Homo sapiens: one gene and its partners. The protein of the gene in region 4 binds, or shares a complex with, the protein of the main gene of each other region. Each region holds a gene or a part of one and is shown on either strand. Other genes may lie near its edges.

Region 1 (8,759 bases), on a different chromosome or scaffold from region 4:
AAAAAAATATTTGGGATTCTGGCCGGGCACAGTGGCTCATGCCTGTAATCCCATCACTTTGGGAGGCCGAGGCGGGCAGATCACCTGAGGTCGGGAGTTTGAGACCAGGCTGAGCAACGTGGAGAAACCCCATCTCTACTAAAAATACAAAATTAGCTGAGGGTGGTGGCACATGCCTGTAATCCCAGCTACTGAGGAGGCTTAGGCAGGAGAATCGCTTAAACCTGGAAGGTAGAGGTTGCTGTTAGCCAAGACCATGCCATTGCACTCCAGCCTGGGCAAGAAGAACGAAACTCCGTCTCAAAAAAAAAAAAAAATTGAGATTCTACACATTCTGTTTTCTATGACTCCAATTTATCTTTCTGTCTTGGATTATCTTGTTTTTAGGCTCAACTGGAGAAGCTACAGGCAGAGATTTCACAAGCAGCTCGAAAAACAGGCATCCATACTTCGACTAGGCTTGCCCTCATTGCTCCTAAGAAGGAGCTAAAGGAAGGAGATATTCCTGAAATTGAGTGGTGGGACTCTTACATAATCCCCAATGGCTTTGATCTGTGAGTTTGTTTTAGTACCTTTTTAAAAAAACAGTTTTTAATCAGCTGAGTTTAAGACTCAAGTTAATACCTTTTAGTAAAGCTATGGTTTTAGTGGGAAGGATGGTACTCATTCATTAATTAAAATTTTTAAATCCAAGAGAGATAAGTAACTGTACACAAGGTCCTGTTATTTTTTTTTTTTTTTTTTTTGAGAGGGAGTCTCGCTCTGTCACCCAGGCTGGAGTGCAGTGGCACGATCTCAGCTCACTGCAACCTCCACCTCCCGGGTTCAAGAGATTCTCCTTGAATTCTCCTTGAATCTCAGCCCCTCAAGTAGCTGGGACTACAGGTGTGTGCCACCATGCCCATCTGCTTTTTGTATTTTTGATAGAGACAGGGTTTTGCCATGTTGGCCAGGCTGGTCTCGAACTCCTGACCTCAGGTGATCCGCCCACCTTAGCCTCCCAAAGTGCTGGGATTACAGGCGTGAGCCACTGCACCTGGCCAAGCTCCTGCATTTGTAAGTGATGTATCATATATATAGGCTGTTTTTAGCTTTTGGGGTTAATGTAGGATAACCAGGGACACAATCTACAAAAGCAAAGTCTAGAATTCTTTTTGCTCTGTTACACATTGTTGCCTGTTTTTAGCATTATTTTCCTTAATTACATTCTTTTGCTACGTATTATAGGTGTTTACATTTCCTAAAGATCTCATTGTGATAGAGCAAGGATTATTAGTTGGTAGGTGAGATAATAGTAAATATAGCATATAAGGCTGGGCTCGGTGGCTGACACCTGTTATTCCAGCACTTTGGGAGGCTGAGGGCTGAAGGATTGCTTGAGCCCAGGAGTTAAAGACCAGCTTGGGCAATATGGTGAGACCTCGTTTCTACAAAGATTAAAAAAAAAAAAAAAGTAGCTGGGCATGGTGGCTTGTGCCTGTAGTCCTGGCTACCCAGGAGGCTGATGTGAGAGAATCACTTGAGCCCAGGAGGGTCTGTGCTGCAGTCAGCTATGATCATGACCACTGCACTCTATCCTGGACAACAGGGTGAAACTCTGTCTCAAAAAAAAAAAGGATATAAGACACATTTGAAGAGCTTTAAATATATCTGCTCCATCCATTTTTTTTTTTTTTTTCCTGAGACGGAGTTTCGCTCTTGTTGCCCAGGCTGGAGTGCAGTGGAGCAATCTTGGTTCACCACAGCCTCCGCCTCCTGGGTTCAAGTGATTCTCCTGCCTCAGCCTCCCAAGTAGCTGAGATTATAGGCATGCACCACCACGCCTGGCTAATTTTTGGTGTTTTTAGTAGAGACGAGGTTTCTCCATGTTGGTCAGGCTGGTCCCAAATTCCCGACCTCAGGTGATCCACCCGCCTCAGCCTCCCAAAGGGCTGGGATTACAGGCATGAGCCACCACGCCTGGCGTTTTTTTTTTTTTTTTTTTTTTTTAAGACAGAGTCTCACTCTGTTGCACAATCTCGGCTCGCTGCAACCTCTGTCTCCTGGGTTGAAGCAGTTCTTCTAGCTCAGCCTCATAAGTATCCGGGACTACAGGCAAATACCACCACACCTGGCCAGTTTTTATATTTTTAGTAGACAAGAGTTTCACTATTTGGCCAAACTGGTCTCAAACTCCTGACCTCAGGTGATCCACCTGCCTTCATCTCCCAAAGTGCTGGGATTATAGGCATAAGCCACATCACCTGGCCCTGCTCCATCATTCTGATACATGGCTTTAGTAGATTTTGTCTTAGCCTTTCGTTGCCCCTTCTTTGTCAGCCACTGTTCCAGGGACTTATTGTCACTAATGAGAGAACATAGCGTCTGTCAGCTGTGGCATGGTAGAAAAAAGGTTGAGAATGATTGCTGTGGAGAGTGTGTTCAACCATAGAGGGACTCAGTTTTCTCATCATGAAAATTATGTGTAATTTAACTATATATTTTAGGTACCTAAATGCTATTTTAGGTATATCAAGCACAAGAACCCATTATAGAGAGTGGGTTTTTTCATTGTATTTCTGAGACTCCTCTCTTAGAATCATCTCTACCCGCATATCGTGTTTTCTTTTCTTCCTACAATTTTAGTACAGAGGAAAATCCCAAGAGAGAAGATTATTTTGGAATCACAAATCTTGTTGAACATCCAGCCCAGCTCAATCCTCCAGGTAATGTATAGATTCCTGAATCAAGTCTCTAGAGCAGCATTACCCATTGGAAATTTATACAGTGAGGAACATGTTCTGTATCTATGCTGTTCAATACAATAGCCACTACCCATGTGTAATTCTTTTTTTTAATTCAGTTTTTTTCCTGACAATAGTTTGTTGTTTGACCAGTGAACATACATTTTAAGTGCATATTCCTGTGCTTAGAATTTCATGAGACAGCCAAGCATGGTGGCTCATGCCTCTAATCCAAACACTTTCGGAGGCCAAGGCAGGAGGATTGCTTGAGGCCAAGAATTCAAGACCAGTCTGGGCAACACAGTGAGACCCATCTCAAGGAAAAAAAATTTGGCTGGGTATGGTGGCTTATGCCTGTAATCACTGCACTTTGGGAGGCTGAGGTGGGCAGATTGCTTGAGCTCAGGAGTTCGAGATCTAGGCAACATGGCAAAACCCCATCTCTACAAAAAATAAAAAATCAGCCGGGCATGGTGGTGTGCATCTGTAGTCCCAGCCTCTTGGGAGGCTGAGGTGTGGAGGATGGCTTGAGCCTGGGAGGTGGAAGTTGCAGTGAGCTGAGATGGTGCTGCTGCACTCCAGCCTGGATGATACTGCCAGACCTTGTCTCAAAAAAAAAAAAAAAAAAAAAAGAAGAAAGAAAGAAAGAAAAAAACCCAAAATTTCATGAAGCTTTACATTTACAGTTCCCTGGTTGTTCCTAGGAAAGAGCCCTCAGCTTGCTCCTTTTATAGAACCACATGTTGTTGTGGCATCCACAGCTAAATGCAAATGCAAGAGCCAAACTCTTGGGTTGGTGTGTTATTAGATGCGATATGCTCCACTACCCACTGTGAGGGATGCTAATTCCAAAGGGCTTTTTGTTAGTTTCCCAAAGTTGAAACTGGGAAACAAAGTTGCTTCTATTTTTTTTTTTTTTTTTTTTTTGAGGAGGAGTTTCGCTCTTGTGGTCCAGGCTGCAGTGCAACGGCATGATCTCAGCTCACCACAACCTCTGCCTCCTGGGTTCAAGCAATTCTCCTGCCTCAGCCTCCTGAGTAGCTGGGATTACAGGCATGTGCCACCACGCCCAGCTAATTTTGTATTTTTAGTAGAGACAGGGTTTCACCATGTTTGGTCAGGCTGGTCTTGAACTCCTGACCTCAGGTGATCTGCCAGCCTTGGCCTCCCAAAGTGCTGGGATTATAGGTGTGAGCCACCGCGCCCGGCCTTTTTTTTTTTTTTGAGTTGGAGTTTCGCTTTTGTCACCCAGGCTGGAGTGCAATGGCACTATCTCCGTTCACTGCAACTTTCACCCCCCTGGGTTGAAGCTATTCTCCGGCCTTAGCCTCCGGAGTAGCTTGGATTATAGGTGCCTGCCACCACACCTGGCTAGTTTTTGAACTTTTAGTAGAGACAGGGTTTTGCCATGTTGGTCATGCTTGTCTTGAACTCCTGACCTCAAGTGATCTGCCCACCTAGGCTTCCCAAAGTGCTGGGTTTACCGGCGTGAGCCACCGCACCTGGCCCTAATTTTGTTTTCTACATTTGCCAGGTATCATTGAATGAGGGGGTTTAACAGCTTAAAGGAAAACAACTAAGAACACTACTTAAGAAAGATAAGAGGCCAGGCGAGGTGGCTCATGCCTGTAATCCCAGCACTTTGGGAGGCCGAGGCGGGCAGATCACGAGGTCAAGAAATCAACACCATCCTGGCTAACAAGGTGAAACCCCGTCTCTACTAAAAATACAAAAATTAGCCAGACGTGGTGGCGGGTGCCTGTAGTCCCAGCTACTCAGGAGGCTGAGGCAGGAGAATGGTGTGAACCCAGGAGGCAGAGCTTGCAGTGAGCTGAGATTGCGCCACTGCACTCCAGCCTGGGCAGCAGAGCGAGACTCCGTCTCAACAAAAGGAAAGATAAGAATGTTTTTTAAAAACATAGCCATATTGCCGGGCACCAGGCCTGAACTGATTTTAATCTTACTGATCCCTTATTAACGAGTTTTCTTCATTTTCTATTTAAAGTTTATACACACACACACACACACACATGTTTTTTGAAATGGAGTCTCGCTGTGTTGCCAGGCTAGAGTGCAGTGGCAAGTGGCACAATCTCGGCTCACTGCAACCTCCACCTCCCGGATTCAAGTGATTCTCCTGCCTCAGCCTCCCGAGTAGCTGGGACTACAGGTGCGTGCCACCACGCCCAGCTAATTTTTGTATTTTTAGTGGAGTCAGGGTTTCACCATGTTGGCCAGGCTGGTCTCGATCTCTTGACCTCGTGATCTGCCCACCCGTGCCTCCCAAAGTGCTGGGATTACAGGTGTGATCCACCGCACCTGGCCTCAATATATTTTTTACATAAAATGTTTATAATAGAGTTGGGTCTCACTTGGTTGTCCAGGCTGGTCTCGAACTCTTGGGCTCACGCCATCCTCCCACCTTGGCCTATCAAAGTGCTAGAATTACAGGCATAAGCCACTGTGTCCAGCCTAAAGTTTCTTTTAATGATATTGATATTTACCTAGGTTTCTTTAATATTTTTATTGCTGTCCGGGCCTGGTGGCTCATGCCTGGCCAACATGGTGAAACCCCATCTCTACTAAAAATACAAACATTAGCCAGGCATGGTGGCGTGTGCCTGTAATCCTAGCTACTCGGGAGGCTGAGGCAGGAGAATTACTTGAACCCAGGAGGCAGAGGCTACAGTGAGCTGAGATCGTGCCATTGCACTCCAACCTGGGTGACAGAGTGAGAGAGAGAAAAAAAAAAAATATATATATATATATATGTATTCTTACTGCTTTGGTATACTAATATCTCTGCCTGACAGTTGACAATGACACACCAGTTACTCTGGGAGTATATCTTACCAAGAAGGAACAGAAAAAACTTCGGAGACAAACAAGGAGGGAAGCACAGAAGGAACTACAAGAAAAAGTCAGGCTGGGCCTGATGCCTCCTCCAGAACCCAAAGGTGCATTTCTCAGTGGCCTCTTCTGTTAAAAAGAGTGGCAAGTTTATGTCTTTAATCCTGGAGGAACTTTAACATCTCTGTGTTTGAGTGATTTCTGTTTCTAAGAATTATTCTTGGGGTCCTTTTTCTCCAAGTTTTCTACCATCTTTTCATATTAAGATAGGTCAACACATTCATTATAGAGGCCATTTATGGCTTATTTTTAAGCATACTGATCATACAACACTCTGGTTTTCCTGGAAGAATACAGGTCTTGAAATTCATGGAGATAGTAGTTGCAGTATTTGCGTAGACTTTTTATGTACATAATTCTTAATGTTTTAATTTTTACAATGAAAGTACAGGATAAAAAACTTGACCCTGTAGTTACATTCTCGTTCAGCAGTATTTTGACTGAGCACTATTATTTATAAGCTCTTTCACTAGATGCTGTGATCAGTGTGAAAAATATGAAAGGAATTAAGTTCCACGTCCTTCATAAATTTTCAGATAATGTAAATGCATACCAATCTTCAACTTAATTGTGTGAACTTCTGCAAATGCTGAAGTGATTGGATGGGATTTTCAAGATAGGAGTTATTGGAGGAAGTGAGTTTAGAGCAGAGATTTGAAATAGGTAAATAATATGAATTGGTATGGAAGAAATAACAAGTTACTCCAGCTGGAGAAGTGACTTCAAAGACTGATTGTTGTCCTCTCTTCACTGCAGTGAGAATTTCTAATTTGATGCGAGTATTAGGAACAGAAGCTGTTCAAGACCCCACGAAGGTAGAAGCCCACGTCAGAGCTCAGATGGCAAAAAGACAGAAGTAAGTGCCATGGGATTGGGTGGAAACCTCGGGCAAGTACCTTTCCCAAACTCTTCTGGGGGGTCCATATTTGGAGGGAGGGGAGAGTTCTCCGTTGCTCTCTCTTTCCCTCAGCCCTGCCTCTGATCTTCAATGCCTTTCTCACTTGTGGATGTCCTTCCTGTCACGACAGAGCGCATGAAGAGGCCAACGCTGCCCGAAAACTCACAGCAGAACAGAGAAAGGTCAAGAAAATTAAAAAGCTTAAAGAAGACATTTCACAGGGGGTACACATATCTGTATATAGGTAGGTGTCCATACTGGGCCAAACTTCCCCTTAGAATTACTAAAACATTTTCCAAGTGCTTGAGGCAGAATCATTGTGGCCTAAAAGCATACCTAACACCAGTTCCTACTCTCTTTTAATGACCCTAGTGTGGATCAAGAGCTAGTAAATCTTGTAAAATAGCGAGAGTTAATGACTTATGTTTATGGTTACCCAGTTCTTCCCTCTCAAGTCTTCTTTTTTTTTTTACCAGAATATTAGTTCTGAACAAGTCAATATACTTGTTCAGGCCAAGATGTGAACTAAAGATTGTATGTCCTTTGAGAACTATAAAATATCATCCTATTTCTTTTTTTTTTCATCTTTTTTTTTTTAAATGGTCTGAGTTTGCTTCCAACATCCATGGAAGCATTACAAATTTTCTTTCCTCCGTAGTCATATCCTTACCCTGATGTATTGCTGTGTTTCATCCTCACTCCAAAATGCATTTTATATGTTGTAAATATTTTTCTACCTTTGTGTTGATTTAATGTTTTTATTCTTTTATGTTGAGTACATGTGTATCTTCTATTTTTAAAATGTGCTTATTTCTATTAACTAGTTCTTTATTATAAAAGTGGTACATTATCACAAAAATAGTGAATGCTTATTAAGATTTAAAAAATTGTCTGACAACACAGAAGAATACTTACTCAAAATGTCTCCTTTCTATTCTCTGATCCCTTAGAACCACTCTCTTTAGGTAATTGCTATTAACAGTTTTTCACATATCCTCCTAGAAAATTTTCATGCCTATATAGTGATCCTATATATATATTTTATTTATTTATTTATTTATTTTGAGACGGAGTTTCAGTCTTGTTGCCCAGGCAGGAGTGCAATGGCGCGATCTCAGCGCACTGCAACCTCTGCCTCCCAAGTTCAAGCAATTCTCCTGCCTCAGCCTCCTGAGTAGCTAGGATTACAGGCACGCACCCCCACGCCCGGCTAATTTTTGTATTTTTAGTAGAGATGGGGTTTCACCATGTTGGCCAGGCTGGTCTTAAACTCCTGACCTCGTGATCTGCCCACTTTGGCCTCCCAAAGTGCTGGGATTACAGGCATGAGCCACCGCACCCAGCCAAGTAATCCTATATTATAAGAGTCTAAGGGTCTAGAGGACAAAAAGTCTGTAGGTCTTTACATTGTCAAGAACAATGAGATTGTAAGTATTTTTGGATGATAGTAAATACCTCTCCCTGACTCTTAGAGTAAACTTTGGTTAGTAATGTAATGGTTAATGTAAAGTGCTAGACTTTGAAGAAATGTAAGAGTGTGGAAATATTTCTAGACTCATCAACTCTACCTTTTAAGCATTCATCTATTTGTTTACTCCAGAGGCCTTTGTTTATAGAGAGGAAACCATTTTGGATTCATCTTTTTACTTGCCACTCCATTCAGGCAGCTGCTGATGCTAAAATGGAAGACATAACTAAACTTTCCCTTCTCCAGAGTTCGAAATTTGAGCAACCCAGCCAAGAAGTTCAAGATTGAAGCCAATGCTGGGCAACTGTACCTGACAGGGGTGGTGGTACTGCACAAGGATGTCAACGTGGTAGTAGTGGAAGGGGGTGAGTCTGAAAAACTTGAGGGAGACTGTCCCCAGACAACCCTAGGCTTAGAGTGATTAGCATTGTGGGGAGAAAGGAGAAAAAGATCGTATTTTAGTGCCATACCTGATATAATATGCTAGGTCTCTGCTTCTGTGTTTTTTGGAGTAGAAGGCCCTAAGATGTGGTTCCTGAGATTGCTTCAACTACCACATTAATGTCTGAGCTCAGAGGTTCTTTCTACCCCATCATCTTCCACAGTTCTGGCAAAATTATTCTTCTCTGTTTCCAGGCCCCAAGGCCCAGAAGAAATTTAAGCGTCTTATGCTGCATCGGATAAAGTGGGATGAACAGACATCTAACACAAAGGGAGATGGTGAATGGGGGTTAGAGGGGATTAAGGGGGAGAGCTATGG
Region 2 (8,759 bases), on a different chromosome or scaffold from region 4:
TGGGACTCTGAAAAACCTGACTGCAGAAACAAAGTAACTTTACAGAGCTTACTTGATTTTTCCCCTCTTTATTTCCAAATTGATTTGGTTCCCTGAAAAGAACTTTAAAAGACTCAAACAAAAAATTCTGTCCAAAATAACTGGAAGCTTAATCATCGGCATTTCTTCCCAAGCCAGGTGAAACGTATTGCAAGAAGGCACAAAAACTGCTACCAGTGCACTAGGACTCTACTTTGGGTAGACTTAGCCACTAATTTTTGTTTAAAGTGATATATCCAAGATTCAAATATTTTATCTTATGCTCATTTTAGAATGATGTAAAAAAAAGAACACTGGTACAGTTGGGGTTTTGAAAAATAACCAGACACTAAACTAGTAATAGCAATTATATCTATGGAATATAGATATATTCCCCCACGGATTATGGAAAACTTCCAAGTTATGCTATTTCTGTCTGAATTACTTATAAGCTTCATTACTTCTATAATGAGAATTTTCTGAGAATTTTATAAAAAATTCATAAAAATACTTTTCTCAAAGTATAACAGCAAATGAATTACTTTAATACTGGTAAAAGGAGCTTACTGGCCCTATAATCAGCTACTTTTCAGAAGCCAGTTAAAAGCCAAAGAGAAGGTGGCCAATTCTCTTACTTAGTATGATTTCTTGGTGAAGTCTAGAAGGGTAAAAGTTAACAGAAAAGTATCAATAAGATGAATTTCTCGTTTACTTTCCAACACCAGACTAGACACTTTTCATAACACGAACAACTGCATTACACTTCAAATGAAACAGACTCTTTAGAAGACATTGTCTAATATCACCTATCAGTTCTTTCTTCCAGGGGACACTAATTTACAGATTATCCTAAAAGAAAGATTATCCAGAAGTGTCAAACACTTGACACTTCCAAATTTAAAAAATCTTACCGTCTTACTGGAGATCTACTCCTTCTATGCCTTGGTGGAGGAGGCATTCTTCTTGGCGGAGTTCTTCTTCGAGGAGATGGCCGCCTTCTTGGGCTTGGCCGCCTTCTAGGTGAATACGATCTGCCATAACAAAGAGAATTAGGTCCTGAATAAACCAGGAGTGAGGAATTTCTTGGCTTAGTTTTCTCAATGGCCACATCTAAAAAATAAATTTCAAAGATCAAAATTTTCCATTTATGTAGATTTTTATGGTACACAGAAAAGTGTCCTCAAATTCTCTGTGTACATTCAAAAAATATTTGTACTAAACATCTTCTACCACTTTGAAATTATTTATCTAATTGTACCCAGTAGAGTAGTATATAAAACCTAAGATCTTTGTTGATCTTAAAGCCACAACTCACCTTGATCGGGATCTATGGCGCCGTCTAGGTCGAGTGTGAGAAGGAGAGCGGGACCGCGTCCGGGATCTTGATTTGGAGCGTGACCGAGATCGTGGTCGGGTCTTCTCCTTCTCCTTTTCTTTTTTGGAATTTTTTTCCGGAGAAGGTTCTTTAGGCTCTGGTATAGGTTCAGGTTTGGGAACTTTCAGAATGTCACTGTGGAAACAAAAGCTTTTTTTTTTTTTTTTGCCTTCTTGTACTCAGCCTTCTAAATCATTACACAATGATGTAATAAAGTATTTCTAAAACTTTTCAAAATTCACAGACTTGTCTCTATCTCCAAAAGACACATAAGTATGTATGTACCTATCACTGAAACCCAGAGAGCAACTAATAATTCCAACCATGTACATTTTCTTTTCTTCTTCTGAGACAGGGTCTCACTCTTGTCACTCAGGCTGGAGTGTACTGGCATGATTTTGGCTCACTGCAGCTTCAACCTCCCAGGCTCAAGTGATCCTCCTGAGTAGCTGGGACTATAGGCATGTGCCAACCATGCCCGGCTAATTTGTGTGTGTGTGTGTACATATATATATATATATATATATATATATATATATTTTTAGTACAGATGGAGTTTCACCATGTTGCCCCAGGCTGCTCTCTAACTTGTGAGCTCAAGCGATCCACCCACCTCAGCCTCCCCAAGTGCCGAGATTACAGGCATGCACCCCCGCATCTGGCAACCACATACATTTCTTAAAAGTGCGAAGTTGTCCACAATACGTTGAGGAAAAAAAGCAAGTTACAATATATAAAATACCTGAAACAATACAACCAAAAGATAGTAATGGTCACCCTCTGGGGCATTTTCTTCTAATATACTCTCCTAAACAATTTCTTTTCAACAAACTAATTTTATAATTTAAAAAATCTAAAAGGAAAATAAGTAGTTTTATTTTAACTCAGATGTCATATTTGCAGTCACTATTAATCTAAAATTGTGATTATTTATAAATGAATTTTTATATACTTGCCTAGTAGAAGTAGCCTCTTGTACTGAAGGTTCTTTTACTTTCACTGAAGGTTCTGGGAGCTCTGGAGTTTTTTCCTTCTTTTCTGGAGCAGGGGAAGGACTCCGGCTCTTGGTTCTGTGACGGGGAGATCGAGAATGACTGCGCTTTCTCTCTCTCCTGACAGGGGAAGATCGTCTTCTAGGGGAAGGAGATCTGGATTTGCGTCTAGGATGAAAGTAATTTTTTTCAGGTTTTTAAATAACATGGATTGGAAGAGAGGAGTCAAAGGGAGAAGTGAGGATTAATCTTTAGTTACACTACTGTTTATATCTGAGATGTTTCCCTATGGAAATAAGACATGCTAACCTAATCTACTTGACAGGGAAGAGAAAGACAAGCAAATGAAAGATAACATTCTCGAGTATATCAGTTATAAGGGAGAAAAGCACTAACTTGGGACTCTAGACTTAGGTTCTTAATCATTCCCAGAGATCAAAAGACCAACTTTTCAGAGGCAAAGAGGATGCTTTAAAGCAAACAATGATAATCCTTGACAACAAATCAAACTCCCAAACATAAAACATTTAGATGCGGACAGATTACAATGGAGTTCATCAGGAAGAGCCTCAGTATGCCAGAAAAATGACTAATACCATTAAAGCAACATGTTCTTCAGAAAAGAGAAATATACATCAAACATCCAGAAGATAGCTTTTTTGCGAGAGGAGAAGCCCTCTTTCTTAACAGTAGCCTGCCTAACTCGAAGGGTTTTTCTCTTATTCACACAGAAGGAAAATGGCAGACATACTTCATCAATAGTCAAGTAGTTACCACCATGACAATTTGTGCTTAGCTCTATAAATATTACTTCCATAAGGAGATTTTAGTATCAAATATATAAATGAAAGGGACAAAGAAATTACCTCTTCTCTTTACTAATTCCAGCAGACATTTATGAAAGAAATAAGCAGAACCCTAAAAATAAAAAGCCTAATGGAGTTCTCACCTTTCACCACAAATATAGAAGCTGAGCCGTGGATTTAAAAATGTGAACCTAACAATAGTCTCACTGGAAGAAGAAAACAAATAAATGATCTGAAGTTTGGGTTCAGTACAACCATCTAAGAAAAGCAGAACAGGGAATTAGGTAAGTATTACATGAACGGCTAATGAGTACAGATTTCGAGTACAGATTTCTTTTTAGAAGAAAGGAAATGGAAAGAAAAAGTGAGTCAGAGTACATTTTTAAAAACCCAAATTAACTGTTATGAACTAAAGCAATATGGAAGAAAAAGTTTAAAGTTTTGATTTAGGAATTTAGAGTTGGATAATTTATGAACATCTGCGAGACACTCATGGCTAAATTATCTGTCTCAAACAAAATATGACAGATTTCTTTAGTCCAGAGGCAAGGCACAGGTCACCATGAAAACTGCATGATGGAACAAATTCCTTGAATAGCGCTGTTAGATTCCTTTTTAACTAAGGAAGTTTCTTAAGACCTAAAGTACCTGTAAAACATCAGTTATGCATCTATTGTATGATACCTTCTTGGGCTACGAGACCGCTCCCTTTTTTCTCTGCTGCTTTCTTTTTCTTCCTTATCTCTTTTATCTTTGTCTTCATCTTGCTTTTTCATAGATGCCAGTTTTTCTTGTTCAATCTGCAAAGACCAGGTTTTCAAAATACACATAGTTGAACATTTGAGAACAAACTGAAGACTACTTTCTACGTGTGTTAAACACCAATGCTATTATCATTTCATCGGCCTCTTCTTTTGAACCAGACCTGTTCTTTCTTCACCTACACTACAGATACGCATTAAGACTGGTATTATCGCCACTCATTTACAAATAAATATTCACTGAAAGTTAATCTCTAAGACCTGAACTAAAGAGATGTTTTCAAGCTTACTTCAAAAAAATAAAAATAAAAATAAAAAATAAAATAAAAAAGAAAATCACTTTCACATTGACCTTATTCTTTCTGGGAGTTCATCTGTATTGCCCATATTAAGAGTTTATGCTGGCTGGGCACGGTGGCTCACGTCTATAATCCCGCCAAGGGCGGGCAGATCACTTGAGGTCAGGAGTTCGAGACAAGTCTGGCCAACATGGCAAAATCCCGTCTGTACTAAAAATACAAAAATGAGTTGGATGTGGTGGTGTGCGCCTGTAATCCCAGCTACTCAGGAGACTGAGGCATGAGAATCGCTTGAACTCAGGAGGTGAAAGCTGCAGTGAGCAGAGACCACACCACTGCACTCTAGCCTGGGTGACAGACTGAAACTGTGTCTCAAAAAAACAACAAACCAAAAATCCTTATGCTTACCTTTCAGTGTTAAATTCAAATTTCTTTTAAGCTACATGCACTCACATATTAAGAATTTGTAAAAATCTAGCAAATCACTAGACTGGGAAAATGACATTCTAAACTCAATGTTTGGTTGGAGGGAGGAGCAGTGAACCAAAACTGAATGTTTAAATACAGTACAGCAAAGCAAAACTACATGAAGATCCTAGCTGAGTCATATACTACCTAAGGTGTCTCGGCAGCCTGGCCAATACTCTCAAATCGACATTACAGAAAAGAAAAGGTTATTACCTGTCTTTGTTTTATTTCTTCTTTCTTCAGTTCTAGGAAAGCAGAAGGGATTCCCGCGATGTTTTCTTGTGCACTTAGCAGCAGGGGCCACAGTTCTCCCATAAATTCTCGAGCATTTTTTCCATTCAAAAATCCAGTCAGGTTGATTTGCATCATTTTGGAGTCTGGATTCTGCAAAAAGACACGACAGGAAGAAAAACAGGTTACTTCAAAACCAACCAACCAACAAATCAACCAACCTAAAACTCATTTAAATTAGTATTTTTTAAGTCTACCATAGGGGCTTAGACATATATATAGTCCTTACTATTTTACAAATAGTCTTCCCTAGTAGCTTCTCAGCAATATAATCTCTAACAGATTACCAAATTCTCTCTCACTCTACCAAAAGCATCAGAGCAGCCTGTTAATCCTTTGTGGATTTCGTAAGTATTTTTAGACTCTGTGGCTGTTAGTGGGCCTTACATTTATTAACTTTAAAAACCATCATGAAACATCCACAAATTCTAGTATTTACTAACAAGAAAAGTATTTGCTTGCCTGGAAATTTTCCCCCAATGAGAAACGGAAAAAGTACATAAACTGCTCCCTAACACTACAGATAGCTTTGCATAAAATATCTATTGTCCAGTTATGAAAACTAACAAGTTATGCATGCAGTCTGTAACTTCTGAGGGCTAAGCTAAAGGCCTGAGTTTTATATAAGGAAAATCTATTATAACAATGCCTCAAATTCTCAACTGTCCACAAAGTGCTAAGAGGTCAAGATTTCTCAAAAATAATTGGGTTTTTAAATGCTAAATCCGTTGGTCAAGCAACAAGGTCTGTATAACAAGCACAGCTCAATAGCACAAAGCAAGTACAGATTCCAGGTGTCTTCAGTTTCTTCTTGGAACCTTGGGGGTTTGGAATCGCCAAGTCCCCTGTAGAGAAAGATGTTCCCTTGGCTTGCTTCCGACTCCCTACTGCAACTCAACCACCTTGAGTTTAATGTTATATCATTTATCTAAATTGCAAAAGACGAACAAGCAATAATGAGTACACAACCACAAAAAAAGAATTGTCTTAAAAAGTTCTAAACTTTAATCTCATGCTCACTACAAGGGGAATACTACCAGATACTTAGGTTTTTAAAATGCACTAAAATACACATCAGTAAAGCATTTCTCCAATAAAATCTATCTTCAATCATCATTTAAAAAACTTTCTCCCCTGTTCCTGGTTTTCTAAGATGCATATACTTTATAGAAAGTGCATTCTTAAAATTAGTCTTTAAAAATATTCAAAACAAAATACAAACACCAAATTATTTTAAAACTAGAAATACCTTATCAGTTGAAATGCCAACTGTTCTGTCAAAACATAGGGTGAACTCTTTGGGGGAAATGATTAATGTAAAAGTAAATTCACATTGGTATATATGCAAAAAGGTCATATGGTACATATCTTAACTGTCCTTTGGGTTGCTGTGGCAAAACAGAAACTGTCTTACAATAAGAATGTTCTTAAACATCAGTTATATCATCATATTATCTCATGTATAAAGGAACAATTATATGCTGCCAATTTGTCTGAAGTTTAAGTATAAACAAAAATCCTGTCTCTAAAATGTAACTGATGACTAGCTGACATGCAGCTACAAAGACCTTAGTTCCTTTAAAAACAATATCCAATCAAATCAGAATTGCCCCTCATGCTTCACATAAATGTCCATCTCATAATAGTATTTTAAAAGAGCAGTGTACAGCTTTACCCAATTGCTCTTTCCTGTTTGTGTTTTTTGTTGTTGTTGTTGATGTTTGGCCACTTTACACAACTCACCTCCAAACACACACTGCATCATCAAGGGAGTTGGGTCAGAGCGACATTGGGACACTCACTCTGCTGTGACCTAATAAGGTGATGGTGCTATACTTCAGACGCAAGGAATAACTTCCATTTTGGTTCAGGCCTTTTAAATCATAAATCACATTATCATTAGAAAATTGCTGTCAAAGTAACTTAACATGTAACAGCAAAATTACAAACAATAAGTTTGATTTTTCACCTGTGTAGCTTTCAAAACTATGCACCTTCACTAAACTTCCAGCCTTAATAGTTGTTTACAAAGTGAATTCTTTTCACAACAAACATTGTAAAATAACCCTTCTATATTTGCACTCCATAGAAAAAATTCAGTTTCCAAAGATTCACAAATTATATCACATATTCAGAAACAAGAGCCATTTGTATATTAGTACCTTCACTTCCAGCTGGTTGAATATAAACTCAATCACAACATCATCTTCAAACCCAAGGATTTCCGTTACTCTTTTTGTTATCCAAGGCTTTATAACCTCCAAATTTACTTTGCTCATGTCCACCTGATGAAACATAGAAACAATTAAGTACAACTTCACAATCCTAAAAAAAAATGCTCAAGTTAGAGTTCTGTCTACCAAAGTTCCTTTTAGCTTAGTTTTTTTGTTTGGCATAGTAGAATCTGCTAATTTTTTTTTTTTTTTTTTGAGACAGAGTCTTGCACTCTTGCCCAGGCTGGAGTGCAGTGGTGCTCAGCTCACTGCAAGCTCCGCCTCCCAGGTTCGTGCCATTCTCCTGCCTCAGCCTCCCAATTAGCTGGGATTACAGGCACCCGCCACCACGCCCGGCTAATTTTTTGTATTTTTAGTAGAGACAGGGTTTCACCGTGTTAGCCAGGATGGTCTCAATCTCCTGACATTGTGATTTGCCCGCCTCGGCCTCCCAAAGTGCTGGGATTACAGGCGTGAGCCACCTCGCCCAGCCACAATCTGCTAATTCTTATATGGCTGTGCCACGTGTGGTGGCTAAAAGGTGGTTAATGTTCAATTATGTTTTTCTTAGCATTCAAGTTACAATGCATCTCCAAAACAACCCCAGAACTTGAGTCAAGTAAGTGTGCTATAAAGATGCACAACAGTCTCATCCAGAAGAATACCTTTTTTTCTAGGCATTCTGCAAATTTCAGCTGCTTCAGTAGTTTCTTCTGTTTGTTGCTGAACCGATTATCCTGTTCTGCACTTGTTCCCTGCAGGAAGAGAACCACATCTTAACTAAGGGTTCAAAGTTAAATCCTTACTTTTTATCACCTACGACCTTTATAGCCAAAATAGGGTAACCAAGTAAACACAATACCAAACTAGTTTTCATAGATGAGAAATGCATACTCCTTCCCCAATGTAGCTGATACTTGGAAAACTTGACTGGATTTTTAAATTATCAAGTATATGTTCATCATAAGTCAAACCTAAAACAACAGTATACAGCATAAAGCCAACACCTCCTCATATCCAATGTTAGATTTGATTTGTATCCTTTCACACCTTTTCCTATGCTAATAGATACGTAGGGCTTTTCTGTTTAAATGAGAACACATTGAAGTATTTGAAATTTCATTCTTTTTTGAAAGCCAGTTGCATGCTTGCAAAACTACTGTGGCAATGCATACAAACAGGGTGAAAGGAAAAAAGAACATCCCAGGACTGTGCTGTTAGTCTTCTACAACTTTTAGGAACTTGGAATGAGTGAAGAAGACAGGGTTACCTAAATAAACTCAATTTCAGCAAAGAACCTGGAAAAATGAAAGCTTACAAATACTACCTTAGATCATCGAGTGATCACTAATTATTCTTTTCATTTTGTCATTCCTACTGGCCCAATTAAACACGGAAATAACTGGCTGTGCCATCTGAAATGTACTGATTGGTTCACTGAGTTGGCCACAGTCCCCTGGAAAGCGATCAAAAAAAATTTTGTTTGAGAAGGTAAAAACTGTGCCACTACTTAGCCGTAAGATCGTAAACCAAGTT
Region 3 (7,632 bases), on a different chromosome or scaffold from region 4:
GTCTTGAACTCCTGAGCTCAAGCAATCCTCCTGCCTCAGCCTTCCAAAGTGCTAGGATTACAGGTGTGAGCCACCACATCCAGCCTATTCCACAAAAATTTACTGAGTACTTGCTGCGTGCCAAGAGCAGGGGTGAGCAAAACAGATACATTCTAGCAGGGGAGAGATACAGTAAACAATCATTATCCACACATGTATGTGGTTACAAACTGATGGGCATTATGAAAGAAAAGTACAAGGTATTTCTGTGAGGACATAAGAGGAAAATCTTATTCCAATTGCAGGCTCATGGTAAAAAGCTGCCCAAGGTGTCGACTGTAAGGGGCTAGCAAAAGCATCAAAGAAGGCCGGGTGTGGCGGCTCACGCTTATAATCCCAGTGCTTTGGGAGGCTGAGGTGGGTGGCTGGATCACCTGAGGTCAGGAGTTTGAGACCAGCCTGGCCAACATGGTGAAAACTATCTCTACTAAAAATACAAAAAATTAGCCAGACATGGTGGTGCACACCTATAACCCTGGCTACTTGGGAGGCTGAGGCAGGAGAATCGCTTGAACCCGGGAGGCAGAGGTTGCAGTGAGCCGCAATCACGCCATTGCACTCCAGCCTGGCTGACAGAGAGAAAAAAAAAAAAAAAAAAAGGCTGGGAGCGGTGGCTCACACCTATAATCCCAGCACTTTGGGAGGCTGAGGCAGGTGGATCATGAGGTCAGGAGATCGAGACCATTCTGGCTAATACGGTGAAACCTGTCTCTACTAAAAATACAAAAAAATTAGCTGGGCATGGTGGCGGGCGCCTGTAGTCCCAGCTACTTGGGAGGCTGAGGCAGCAGAATGGCATGAACCCAGGAGGTGGAGCTTGCAGTAAGCCGAGATCACAGGCACTGCACTCCAGGTTGGGCGACAGAGTGAGACTCCATCTCAAAAAAAAAAGCATCACAGAAAACTTCCACTTTCCCAGCTCTTCAATATTCCACCTTTTGGCATTTAGGGTGGATTTAACAAAAGGGACCACCATTGAGGCAGGGTAGCCACCTTAGGGAACACGAATGCTTTGGTTTAACTTGTCAACTGGGAAACCAAATTCATAAACTGACAAGTAGCCCAGAGGCCCAAGCTAAGTTTGACTGCAGATTGGGATGCTACAAGGGATCCAGCGAAGCCTTCTCTCTTGGTCAAAGAGTAGACAGTGGAGTTGGGGAACAATTTCTTTTGGGAAGAAACACAAAGATTATGACTTAAGGAACACAGGAGAGGAAATGAAAAGAGGATTAAGATGAGTAACAATGGAAATCCTCCTACAAAAGTTCATACAAGCTTCATGCTTTCAAAAGGGCTTTAAGATGGTGTGTGGTGGCTCACACCTGTAATCCAACACTTTTGAGAGGCTGAGGTGGGAGGATCACTTGAGCCCAGGAGTTGGAGACCAGCCTGGGCAATATAGTGAGACATTGTCTCTACAAAAAATTTAAAAATTAGCCAGACATAGTGGTGTGTGCTTGTAGTTCCAGCTACTCAGGAGGCTGAGGTGGAAGGACTGCTTGAGCCCAGGAGGCGGAGGTCGCAGTGAGCTGAGATTGTGCCACTGCACTCTGGCCTAGGAGACAGAGTGAGACCCTGTCTCAAAACAAACAAATAGGGCTAAAAAAAAAAGTTCACACGAGCCACCCAAAGTGCAAAGGCGAAGCTTCTGGCACTGTTCCAACAGTAGCTGCCTTTGGCCCCAGCAAACCTGGGACAGGAAGAACTTGAAGTCAATAGCCCTGCGGAGGGAGAGCCACTTTATCCCCTCTTGCACAGAGCCTTGCAACTACTTCCAAGGAGGATCACTCCTTCCAGCTCCTTGGGGGCAGCCCCTGGATAGACACCAAGGCATACTCCTGGGGCTCTGGTTGGCAGTACCTGGCCACAGAGATCCAAAGGCGGCCCACGGTGCATATCTGGGAGTCTTCCTCATCCTCCAGGGTGTAGTTCTCCCCCAGTACCTTCACAGGCTGCCCAGCATGAATGGTGCCACTCAGCACCCGGCCAAAGGCGTGAAACTGGACTCCATCATCTGTGCTGTACATCTTAGTAGTGTGGCACATCAGGGGGCCCTGGAAGAGGGGACAGGGTGCAGCTTCAACCACATCTATGCTCCGGGGAAGTACTACTCCCCGCCATCTTCCTTGACAGCAAGGACATGAGCTCTATGAGGAGCTAGAGAAAGATGAGGTAGTCTCATCTCCAAACCATGTTCTACCCCATCCCTCTGAGAAGGATGAATAGGAGACATGGCAGAGCAAAAATATTCTCCTCTTTTTTTTTTTTTGGGAGGATAAGGGCATTGAGGAAGAGACACAGATTTAAGATAGCAGAGAGGCACTATTGGCAAGATTACTTACTGTCCCAAATTTCCTCTTAAGATGTAACTCAATTCTCAACTGGCTGTGTATTTATGATAAGAAACTAGACAGCCTAAGAAATGGCTGGGAAAGATGTTTTTAAAAGCCAGGACTGACAAGATTAGCTACCATTTGTTGAATCTTTAGTATCTGCCAGGCAACATGCTGAACACAACCGTAACACTTCCTTAATCTTATTTAAATCTCATAACAACCGCTCACATTTTATTATGCTCGTGTTATAGACCAAGGCCTTGAGGCTCAGGAAATGTGAGTAATGTTCCCAAGGTCATAGCACTAGCGGTGGCAACATCAGGCTTTGCATTCAGGCCTGACTGTGCTCATGGGGATGGGGAGGCAAGGGTGGGAAAGTGGGCATTACTCCTGTGACCAGAAATCAGTATCCCCACACAGGAAGGGGAAAAAAAGACCAGAGAACCGGGGAGCCACATGCCCTTACATCAGGGTCACAGTCACTCATAGCCTCGCCGAGGTCGGAGTCCACACCACCGGTGTAGGTGTGCTCAATCTTGGGCTTGGCGCCCACCTTTGGAGAAGGGATATGCTGCACACACATGTCCACAAAGCCTGTGGATGGAGAAGAGAAAGCCATTAATACATGCCTTCCCAGGGAGCACGAGCAGGAGTTACTGAGCCATTCACAATGGTCAAAAAGCTCAAAGTGCGGGGACTGATTGTTAGCTCTAAAAGCTCTGGCACTATAGATAGTGATAGCCTGCTTCCTGGGAATGTGCTGCTAGAAGATTTGGAGTCACCCTGATGCCAGAAAAGAGCAAGCAGCAGGTATCAGTGGTACATGGTTCCTTGGAACTCAGCTGACAAAAAGTTTAAAGTACATCGATCTATGAACTTTTATTGGCTATACGCATTTACGTGGAACAAAATAAGCACCCCATCTAACATCTACTTAAAACAATTCCCAACCTGACTCCCCTTGAGAAACACTGCATGCATCTCTATTCAATAAGTTACCCCGTTTTCTGAACACATTAATAAACCACATAAGAGGGAACCCCCATGAGCACACTGGGATAGGCCTGTGTGCCTTCAATGGTATCTGGTGTGTCAGATTGATGGGCAGACCAAAATAAGCTATTAAAACTACGCACCTTGGGGGCCCAGACACCTAATTCCCACCGGACTTAGAATCAGAGACTGCTGAGAAGACCCTCAGCCATCACCCTTTCCACTTCCCTGATTTTACAGATAACAAATCAGAGTCATGAAGAATTAGGTGGCTGGCCCAGGGTCATCTCATGGAATGGCCAGGGCAGGATCGAGACAGACTCAGGTGGTTTTTTCAACCAGTCCAGTGTCTTTCTGCTGTATCACGTGCCTTCTGTGTAACTAACCAAGTCTCCCAAGTCCTAGCCTAGTGCTTTTTGCACTATTTCACACTACCCAAGCATCCACCTTCCCGGCTGCCCCCTGGAAAATATACCAGAACCACAGAGCCTGCCTCCCCATCTCATTTACTTGAACACTCCTCCTGGCAGGAAAATGTAATTCCTTTTGGTTCCCAAGATAGAATGTGTGCCATCATCCACTAAGGAAAGCAGCTAGGAAAAACACCAGTGTTCTGCATCTGAATCTGTGGTTTGTTGAAAAGATCCTCAGATTTCTGACCTCCATCGCTGGGTGAGAAAAAATTGCTGTGATACCTGTGGCAGGGCACGAGGATGACAGAGTTAAGGGGCCACGAGCACATTATTACCTGTGAACTCGCCAAAGAACTTTTTGCAGACCAGCCTGAGCAAGGGGCGGATGTTCAGCTTCAGCTCCTCCTTCGTCAGGTGGATGCCAAGCTCGTCTAGGGTCCGTGGGAGGCTGGTGTCCACGTCACCTACAACCTGTGAGGGTGTAAGACACCATGTCAGCTGTAGTGAGAGCCTGAGCATGGTGCTAGAGGGAGACAAGGGAAGTCCAAAGAAATATCTGAAGAACTCCTTCACAAGGCTCTCTTCTATGGAGACAAAGCTCTTGGCAAGGACAAAAGTTTGGTTTCAGCGGCATCTCTGCTACCTACCCTTCAAACCACAGGCAAAGCCAACTTGGTTACATCCCCATCCCAGCCAATAAACCAAGCACTCAGATTGATTACTCCCAGTGCTGCCCCCTGGTGTCTGAAAAGCAGCATCTCCTCCCACTCAGAAACTCCCTCACCTATTAAACAGAAGTCTATTTACAGACTTCTCAGATTTAGAGGATCATTGTGCACTGGAAGGAACCAAAAAAGGTCACCTTGCTGTGGATCCTGTCAGGGCAGGGCCAAGCTAAATCACCCTCAGTAGACTCAAGGTCTCTACTGAGGCAGGCTCTATAAATTTTTTTTATTAATCCATTCCAGTCTGACATAAGATACTAAGTATTTTTCAGCACTAATAAATTTTAATTGCTATTTTATCTTGTTGCTAGGTTTTGCTGTTTTGTCCACCGGAATGGCCACACACATTTTGTGTATGTGTGTGTCCACTGTGCTTATTAAATACCTGCATATTTTATTACTGCCTTGGGAGAAAGGTCTGTATGAAAATTCCTATAATTTTTACCCTTTTAGTCCCATCTTTTAGGGAGTACAAATTCATATAAACGTCATGCTATATTCCCTTTTTTAGAGACAGGGTCTCACTCTGTCACCCAGCCTGGAGTGCAGTGGTGTGATCACGGCTCACTGCAACCTCCACCTCCTGGGCTCAAGTGATCCTCCTGCCTCAGCCCCCCAAGTAGTTGGGACCACAGGCACACACCACTACAACAGCTAATTCTATTTTGTGCGGAGATAAAGGGTTTAGCCATGTTGTCCAAGCTGGTCTTGAACTCCTGATCTCAAGCGATCTGCCCACTGGGACCTCCCAAAGTGCTGGAATTACAGGCGTGAGCAACCACATCCGGCCACGTTATATTCTTTGCTTCTCAGCATTCCACATGCTTAATTAAATCCTTACCATCTCCTGACAAATGATTTCAATCTGACAAGCATCACATATTGTGCAAACAGTTAAGAAAGCAAAGTTCATACGAACATGCTTTGTTTTGTTTTTTTCTGAGACAGGGTCTCACTCCATCACTCAGGCTGGAATGCAGTGGTGTGTGATCATGGATCACTGCAGCTTTGACCACCAGGGTTCAAGCAATCCTCTGGCCTCAGCCTCCTGAGTAGCTGGGACCACAAGTGCACACCACCAGTCCCAGTTGATTTATTTTATTTTTTTTGAGACGGAGTCTTGCTCTGTCACCCAGGCTGGAGTGCAGTGGCACAATCTCAGCTCACTGCAGCCTCTGCCTCAAGAGTAGCTGGGATTACAAGCATGAGCCACCACGCCTGGCTAATTTTTGTATTTTTAGTAGAAATGGGGTCTTGCCATGTTGCCCAGGCTGGTCTTGAACTCCTGGACTCAAGTGATCCTCCCGCCTTGGCCTCCCAAAGCGTCTGGATTACAGGCCTGAGCCACTGTGCCCAGCTCAGACATACTTTAAGTGGTTGCAAAGCGGTTCATTTTATGGGATGTACCATCACTCATTTAATCAGATTAATGAGCATAACTGACAAACATTTAACTTATTTCCAGTTTTTTCCCTTTTCCTGATGTTACAAACAATGCTATAAGCTGAGGTGGTGGACTCCTGCCTGTAAGCCCAGCACTTTGGGAGGCCAAGGCAGGAGGATCACTTGAGGCTACAAGTTTGAGACCAGCTTGGGGATAATGGCAAGACCCTGTCTCTACACAAAATTTTTTAAAAGTTAGCCAGGCATGGTAGCTTGCACCTGCAGTCCCAGCTTCTCAGGAGGCTGAGGTGGGAGGATTGCTCAAACCTAGGAGTTTGAAGCTGCAGTGAGCTATGATCGTGCTATTGCACTCCCACCTGGGCGACAGAGTGGGACCCTATCTCTAAAAATGCTATAATAAACACTTTGACTTATATGAATAAGCAGGAGGACTTTCACAATTATATCTGTAAGTTAAATTTCCGTAACTGAAATGATTAGTTCTAAGTGTCACATTCTTCTCAATAGTCAAGATCTGTTCATAAACCTGCTCTAGGAGAAGTCTTTTCTTTCATACCTTTTCCCTTTCCTTTGATTTTTTTTTTTTTTTTTTTGGTGACAGAGTCTCGCTCTGTCGCCCAGGCTGGAGTGCAGTGGTGCAATCTCGGCTCACTGCAACCTCTGCCTCCTGAGTTCAAGCAATTCTCTTGCCTTAGCCTCCCGAGTAGCTGGGACTACAGGCGCCCGCCACCATGCCCAGCTAATTTTTTGTATTTTGGTGGAGACGGGGTTTCATCGTGTTGCCTAGGCTGGTCTCAAGCTCCTGAGCTCAGGCAATCTGCCCACCTCGGCCTCCCAAAGTGCTAGGATTACAGGCATGAGCCACCATGCCCGGGCCCCTTTCCTTTGATTTTAATAACACTTAGAGTAATGTAGTGTTCTGGATCCAGAAGATTACTTCTGGAACAATTAGTGACCAACAACCACCCTTATACTTGACATAAAACTGAGCAGGTTTAGGGACAGAGGGAAGTGTGAGTTCACCAGCTCTTCCACACTGTGCTTATAAGAGCAGATCTGCCCAGTGTGACCTGACACACTCACCTGGGCGAGGATCTTATAAAGAGGCTCCAAGATAAACTCCACGAAACTTCTCTGGGAGCTGCTAGTTGGGGCCTTTTTGGTGAACTTTCGCCTAAAAGGAAAAATAAGTTCTGAGTGACCCAGGGGAAAAGGCACTATCACTGATCCCAAGAGGCATTGTCTAAGTGCTGAATCTGAACAACAGCCCAGGGGAGGAATGTGTGTGTGACTGTAAAGTTTCCAGAGACAGATTCCTGGAAGGATACATGGTTATGACCCTCCTGGATGCCTGAGCTGGGCTGTAAAGACTTCAGGAGAAACAGCTTCTCACCAGATCAGAGCTTAGGAAGCCAACCCATTTAGGGGAGGAAAGACGGTAGTTTACATTAAAAAAAAAAAAAAAAGTAGGTATTTAATCTTTGAACTCAGAGAATTTCACTGTCCTCACTTACTGGGTAAATGATCACCCCTCTGGAAAGTCACGTCCCATACTCTACTTACGTCTTAGGGTTGAAGTAGATGTCACCCCAGAGTCTTTTAGCAAATTCTTGGTAATTAATGTCACCTATGGGAGAAGCCACACAATTATAATCTACCTAGCAAAGTGTCGTTCAAAATTCTGTTTCAGGTGCCACAGGTGGTTCATAGCTGAGAACTTCT
Region 4 (6,466 bases):
AATTAGCCAGACATGATGGTTTGTACCTGTAGTCCCAGCTACTCAGGAGGCTTAGATGGGAGGATCACTTGAGCCCAGGAGTTCAAGGCTGCAGTGAGGTGTAATTACACTCCAGATGGGACTACAGAGTGAGACCCTGTATTTAAAAAACAAAAACAAAAACATTTAGAATGTGACTGACTTCTATGTCAAGATTTTCTAATATTCTTAGCTGTCTGAAGATGAAATAAGTTTATTTGGGTCATGAATTCCCTATCACCATGATACTCAACTAGAGTTAGGATGACCCAGTAGGGATATTACTATTTGGATTAAAGCACTAGATTATGTGTAGGTCAAATGAGTTTTAATTTTCTGAAGAGTTAATAAGATTGTGATTTGATGTAATACATTTAAACTTTCCTGGTTTTGAATTAACTTGCTTGGATTTTATTCAGTTACCAAAACTCTGGCATCAAGGTGATCATGTTTTATTCTGTGATATATATCTTCCCTTTTTTTGTGAGGTTCAAATCATTTTATGGTGAATTTGAGACATGATATAAAGAAAAAGTATTTTTAAATTTGACACATTTCTTAGTAAATAAATTGAAATGAAACAAATAATAATCTCCCTAGGCCTTTAGTTATTGGTTCTGCATGATAATGTGTTGGGGGGTGGAGGGAATCTGAAGTCTAACACATTTAACAGAAGCTAGTTAAACTTTATTTACTGTAGCTACTAATAAAGAGCTATAAACAGGGAAAGGTGTGTGTGTAAATGTTGTTTGTGGTGTCTAGGTAACATTGGTGCAGGAGAGAATTGAACTTGGTTTGTTTTTCTTTTCCTTCAGTTGCAGGAAGAGGCAGAGGAAGAGGAAGAGGAAGAGGACGTGGCCGTGGCAGAGGAAGAGGGGGTCCTAGGCGATAATGTCTCTCAAGATTTCAAAGTCATATGAGATTTGGGATATTTTTTGTACAGGTTGTGTTTGTTTATGTCAGTTTTTAATAAACATAAATGTGGGACAGAGCTGTCTATTTAGTATATCAAAGTTTTAGTAGTTTCCTCCACATTCACGAAATTACCACAGTGAGAGCTAAGCATTTCTACTGGGCAGTTTCATTTTTAGTTGATCAGGTTTTAAGTTTTTGAACTAAAATTTTTCTTTTTCTTTTTATGATGAATAAGGTTAAAATAAAAGCCTTAGACAAATTAAATTTGGCAGAGTTTAATTGAGCAAAGGACAATTCACAAATCAGGTAGCCCCTGAACCATAATAGGCTCAGAGGCTTCAGCCCAGCTGCATAGTTGAAGATTTATGGACAGAAGGAAAGTGATGTATGGAAAATGGAAGTGAGATACAGCAACAGCCGGATTAGTTACAGTTCAGCGTTTGCCTTATTTGAATATGGTTTGAACAGTTCGCTGTCTTTGGTTGGCTGAAACTTAGTGATTGCCACAAGAGTAGGGTACCGTCTGTTTACACGTCCAGTTAGGCTACAGTTCTATGTACTGAGAAACCTTTAAGCTGAACTTGAGATATGTAAAGAGACTTTAGGCTAAACTTAACAATATATATAGGATATATACCCTTCTACTTCACATGCACTGAATATGCATTTTATTGCTTTACTCTTCATTCTGTGGCACCTACCCACAGGGGAAGTAAGAAGTTTGTTTTGGTATTTCGGAAACTAAAGTCCTTATGGGATGGGGTCTAGAATTGATTCTCCTTTCCTGAGTTTTACTCCACGGAGTCTTAGGTACCTGGTAAAAAGTTGTCTTCTAAATTAAGGGTCATTGCTTTGTTGTCTAGCTGCTAATGTCTTACTTTTGTTTCTTTTGCTTTTTAATCAGTTCTTAATAGGATATAGTTTTATGTTTTCCAAGTTATAACTTGGAGTTAATGGTCACTAGATTATCAGTTATGAGCAGTGTTAAAATCTCCTATTAATGTGTAATGTACCTGTCAGTGCCTCCTTTATTAAGGGGTTCTTTGAGAATAAAAGAGAAAAGACCTACTTTATTTGACAGCAAAACTGTTCTAATTGTTAATAAGGACTTTTAAAAATTGTTTTTGATTTGCTAAGCTCAGAAAAAATGTCTCTCAGTGCATCAGTTCTTTGTAAAGCTTACTACGAAGTATTTATATGCTAAGGAAAACAACTGAGGATGTGGGTGGCTTAAATCTGTATTTTCATCATGTATGTGAGTTTTTTTTTTTTTAAGTAAAGAAATTTTCTGCAAAGATCGTTACCTTAAAAAAGTTTAGCCTGGGTGTGGTGGCTCACGCCTGTAATCCCAGCACTTTGGGAGGCCGAGGCAGGTGGATCACGAGGTCAGGAGTTGAAGACCAGCTTGGCCAAGAGGGTGAAACCCCATTTCTACTAAAAATACAAAAGTTAGCCAGGTGCAGTGACAGGCGCCTGTAATCCCAGCTACTCATGAGGCCGAGGCAGGAGAATTGCTTGAACCCAGGAGGCGGAGGTTGCAGTGAGCCGAGATTGTGCCACTGCACTCCAGCCTGGGCGATGGAGTGAGACTACGTCTCAAAAAAAAATCGAGAGAGAGATATATATATGTATTTATATATATATGTATTTATACTAATATATAAATATATACTAATAGATATATTAGTATACATGTAGAATGTACCTGTCATATATATTAGATATATAAATGTATATATTGGTATAAATAAATACTAGATATATATTTTTTTAAGTATCTTACCTCATCAAGTAAATTCAAATGCTTTTTGATTTTTCCACAGTTGATAATTTTTTTTTGTAAGTCATTGAAGTTATATAGTAATTAGCGTTTTTTCCCCCACAAATTATTGGCAGTGGTCACCCAGTTGTATTACAGGTTCTATGATCCAAAAAGGGATGTATGAAATTCATGATGATTAAGACAATTTTTTCTTTCTTTCTTTTGAGACAGAGTCTTGCTGTGTCACCCAGGCTGGAGTGCAGTGGTGCGATCTTGGCTCACTGCAACCTCTGCGTCCCGGGTTCAAGAGATTATTGTGCCTCAGCCTCCAGAGTAGCTGGGATTATAAGCGTGCGCCACCACACCCAGCTAATTTTTTTGTATTTTTAGTAGAGACGGGGTTTCACCATGTTGGCCAGACTTAAGACAATTCTTTAATAGTAAATATATTAAAGGTGAGTTGGCTTGACAAGATACAACCAATATGTAATTTTTCTCCACACGTTTTTTTTTTTTTTTTTTTTTTTTTTCTGGAGACAGTCTTGCTCTGTTGCCCAGGCTGGAGTACAGTGGCGCGATCTTGGCTCACTGCAAGCTCTGCCTCCCGGGTTCAGGCCATTCTCCTGCCTCAGCCTCCCGAGTAGCTGGGACTACAGGTGCCTGCCACCACACCCAGCTAATTTTTTGTCTTTTTAGTAGAGACGGGGTTTCACTGTGTTAGGATGGTCTCGTTCTCCTGACCTCATGATCTGCACGAGGCCTCCCAATGTGCTGGGATTACAGGCGTGAGCCACCGTGCGTCCCCGGCCTATACCTTTCATTAATTAATAAGCTGGGGGAATAAATAACTGGATTTCATTCTTTTCCATCTTCTGACCTGTTGGTGCTCCTATTGCTTGTATCCAAGTAGAAGGCAAAAGGCAAGAGACCCCTGTAATGCAGCAAGTGGAGAGATTTGTTGAAGGGGTCAAACAAAACCCTGCAAGAGTAGGAAATAAACAGTTGGCTCCTGTCCTCGTGGAGCTTATAGACAGAAGCAGATAACAAATAAAAATTGGAGCTTAGTGCCGTGGTGCACACTTGTAGTCCCTGCTACTGGGGAGGCTAAGGCAAGAGGATCGCTATAGCCTGGGAATTTGAAGCTGTAGCGTGCTATGATTGCAAGCAGCCTGGGTAACCTAGTGAGACCTGGCTCTTAAATTTAAAATTTAAATGAAAATGGCCACTTAGCATAAGAGATCTAAAATTACGTTTTGTCCTGGCATGGTGGCTCATGCCTGTGACCTCAGCACTTTGGGAGGCCGAGATGGGCGAATCACTTGAGGTCAGGAGTTCGAGACCAGCCTGGGTAACATGGTGAAACCCTGTCTACTGAAAATACAAAAATTAGCTTGGTGTGGTGGCGGGTGCCTGTAATCTCAGTTACTCAGGAGGCTTAGGCAGGAGAATCACTTGAACCCTGGAGGCAGAGGTTGCAGTGAGCTGAGATCACACCACTGCACTTCAGCCTGAGTGACAGAGCGAGACTGTTTCAAAAAAAAAAAAAAAATTTGTTTTGAGAGTTTTTGTGTCTAGGATGTTTGCAGTGTGAAGCCAGTCTAGTAACAGTTTAAATGTAATAATAAATCACAGTGGGTACTAGATTGAGTTTATTCCACTAGAGGTCATTATTTCATTTCCATGTGAAAGGGCTAAAATTGGGTGAAGAAAAAGCTATTTGAACTGATTACCATCATTTGCTATAAAGGAAGCATTATAGTATGAATAGAAAACAGACTAGAGTTTAACATGCTTCTCTTGACCCCTCTTCACCACCCCCTAAAAGGCAGATGGGATCTTAGGACTGCAGCATTTTGTACACATCTGATATTTAATGAGATGTTACATATGAACTTTAGTTTTTTTTCTTTTCTTTTCTTTTCTTTTCTTTTCTTTTTTTTTTTTTGAGACAGAGTCTAGCTCTGTCACCCAGGCTGGAGTGCAGTGGTGCAATCTCGGCTCACTGCAAACTCTGCCTCCCGGGTTCACGCCATTCTCCTGCCTCAGCCTCCTGAGTAGCTGAGACTACAGGTGCCCACCACTATGCCCGGCTAATGTTTTGTACTTTTAGTAGAGACGGGGTTTCACTGTGTTAGCCAGGATGGTCTGAATCTCCTGACCTCGTGATTCGCCCGCCTCGGCCTCCCAAAGTGCTGGGATTACAGGCGTGAGCCACCGCGTCCGGCCGAACATTAGTTTTTAAAGAAATGTATTATGAATATAGATAGAAAACCCAAAGTGAAGGAATAGAAAATGAAATATCAGTTTCTTTTAATCTATCATAATTATGTGAGCATAACTTAGTATTTTGAAATAGATTAATGTAGTCAGCAAACAATTCATGTATTACCTATAATAGATATCATACATATAACATTTAATAACATACAGTTCTTGTTCCTGAAGACTTAACCTAGAAAATAACTCCATAACAAGAAGAATCTCTGTCATAATAAACCAACAGCAGACATTTTCTAAAGGCATTAAAAGTATATCTGATACTGGCCTTTATTAATGTGAAATTCTTGTGGATCTGTGAAATAAAGAGGAGTACTTTCTTTTCGTTTTTTTTTCTTTTCTTTTTTTTTGAGACAGTCTCACTCCTTCATCAAGGCTGGAGTACAGTGGTGCGATCTTGGCTCACTGCAACCTCTGTGTCCCGGGTTCAAGCAATTCTCGTGCCTCAGCCTCCCGAGTAGCTGGGATTACAGGCATGCACCACCACACCCAGCTAATCTTTGTATTTTTAGTAGAGACAGGGTTTCACCATTTTGGCCAGGCTGGTCTCTAATGCCAGACCTCAAGCGATCTGCCTGCCTCAGGCTTCCAAAGTGCTGAGATTACAGGTGTGAGCCACTGCGCCCAGCCAATAGGAGTACTTTTGAAAAGGAAGATAAATTTTTTTTTTTTGAGACGTAGTCTTGCTCTGTCACCCAGGCTGGAGTGTAGTGGTGCAATCTCAGTCCACTGCAAGCTCCACCTCCCGGGTTCATGCCATTCTCCTGCCTCAGCCTCCCGAGTAGCTGGGACTACAGGCACCCACCACCACGCCTGGCTAATTTTTTGTAGTTTTAGTAGAGACGGGGTTTCACCGTGTTAGCCAGGATGGTCTCGATCTCCTGACCTCGTGATCCGTCTGCCTCAGCCTCCCAAAGTGCTGGGATTACAGGCGTGAGCCACCACACCCGGCTGATAAACTTTGTAATACTAAGTTCTTTCTGTGTGGGAACATAGTAGTGTTCTCTATCTGAACCAGCTTTTCTTCTCAGTGAAGTTTTAGGGTTTTGTTTACGTATTCCATATATTTTGAGAAATGTTAATATACAGTGAGATTCAGTTTATGAAGAAAATAGTAATAATAGCAAGGCTGTAGATACCCAGTGCAGTCAATTCTTGGAATTTTCAGTAGTTGTGTAAAGTTGCTGTTAATACTAAACCACTACTTCTAGGGAAAATATAGGGTTAAGTTCCTGCAAGCCTCTAGTCACATTTTCATCAACCAACCAATACATAACCTTGTTTTATGAGTGTTTCTGTTTAGAGACATATATAGTAGTATATGTAATACATATATACTACTGATTTGTTAATTCATGGCTAGCAGCACTAACTCATCCATGAACAAAGCTTATCTAACACTTATTTTCTCAAAAAGGCACATCATAGCCTTCTTGAATTTAGGAACACGACAGCACTAAACCTGGGGGCCATTTTAAATGTCTCAAAAAAAAA

The links.
Region 1: SNRPD1 (region 4) and PRPF3 share a complex: the UniProt entries of both Homo sapiens proteins name them as parts of the U4/U6-U5 tri-snRNP complex.
Region 2: SNRPD1 (region 4) and SRRM1 share a complex: the UniProt entries of both Homo sapiens proteins name them as parts of the minor spliceosome.
Region 3: SNRPD1 (region 4) and EFTUD2 share a complex: the UniProt entries of both Homo sapiens proteins name them as parts of the minor spliceosome.

Annotation. Positions count from the first base shown.
Region 1 is NC_000001.11:150,337,773-150,346,531, forward strand, and holds part of PRPF3 (U4/U6 small nuclear ribonucleoprotein Prp3), read left to right. Parts: intron 1-387; coding exon 388-554; intron 555-2,625; coding exon 2,626-2,705; intron 2,706-4,257; coding exon of another isoform or gene 4,258-4,271; exon of another isoform or gene 4,272-4,380; intron 4,381-5,536; coding exon 5,537-5,680; intron 5,681-6,389; coding exon 6,390-6,489; intron 6,490-6,603; exon of another isoform or gene 6,604-6,661; coding exon 6,662-6,775; intron 6,776-8,245; coding exon 8,246-8,364; intron 8,365-8,635; coding exon 8,636-8,719; exon of another isoform or gene 8,720-8,729; intron 8,730-8,759. UniProt on the Homo sapiens protein: Plays a role in pre-mRNA splicing as component of the U4/U6-U5 tri-snRNP complex that is involved in spliceosome assembly, and as component of the precatalytic spliceosome (spliceosome B complex).
Region 2 is NC_000001.11:24,645,203-24,653,961, reverse strand, and holds part of SRRM1 (serine/arginine repetitive matrix protein 1), read right to left. Parts: intron 7,979-8,759; coding exon 7,889-7,978; intron 7,296-7,888; coding exon 7,173-7,295; exon of another isoform or gene 5,104-7,172; coding exon 4,933-5,103; intron 3,992-4,932; coding exon 3,876-3,991; intron 2,554-3,875; coding exon 2,350-2,553; intron 1,529-2,349; coding exon 1,334-1,528; intron 1,050-1,333; coding exon 930-1,049; intron 1-929. UniProt on the Homo sapiens protein: Part of pre- and post-splicing multiprotein mRNP complexes. As a component of the minor spliceosome, involved in the splicing of U12-type introns in pre-mRNAs. Involved in numerous pre-mRNA processing events.
Region 3 is NC_000017.11:44,860,814-44,868,445, forward strand, and holds part of EFTUD2 (116 kDa U5 small nuclear ribonucleoprotein component), read right to left. Parts: intron 7,538-7,632; coding exon 7,474-7,537; intron 7,085-7,473; coding exon 6,994-7,084; intron 4,253-6,993; coding exon 4,117-4,252; intron 2,970-4,116; coding exon 2,842-2,969; intron 2,094-2,841; coding exon 1,900-2,093; intron 1-1,899. UniProt on the Homo sapiens protein: Required for pre-mRNA splicing as component of the spliceosome, including pre-catalytic, catalytic and post-catalytic spliceosomal complexes. Component of the U5 snRNP and the U4/U6-U5 tri-snRNP complex, a building block of the spliceosome.
Region 4 is NC_000018.10:21,628,229-21,634,694, forward strand, and holds the end of SNRPD1 (small nuclear ribonucleoprotein Sm D1), read left to right. Parts: intron 1-833; coding exon 834-910; 3' UTR 911-5,292; downstream 5,293-6,466. UniProt on the Homo sapiens protein: Plays a role in pre-mRNA splicing as a core component of the spliceosomal U1, U2, U4 and U5 small nuclear ribonucleoproteins (snRNPs), the building blocks of the spliceosome.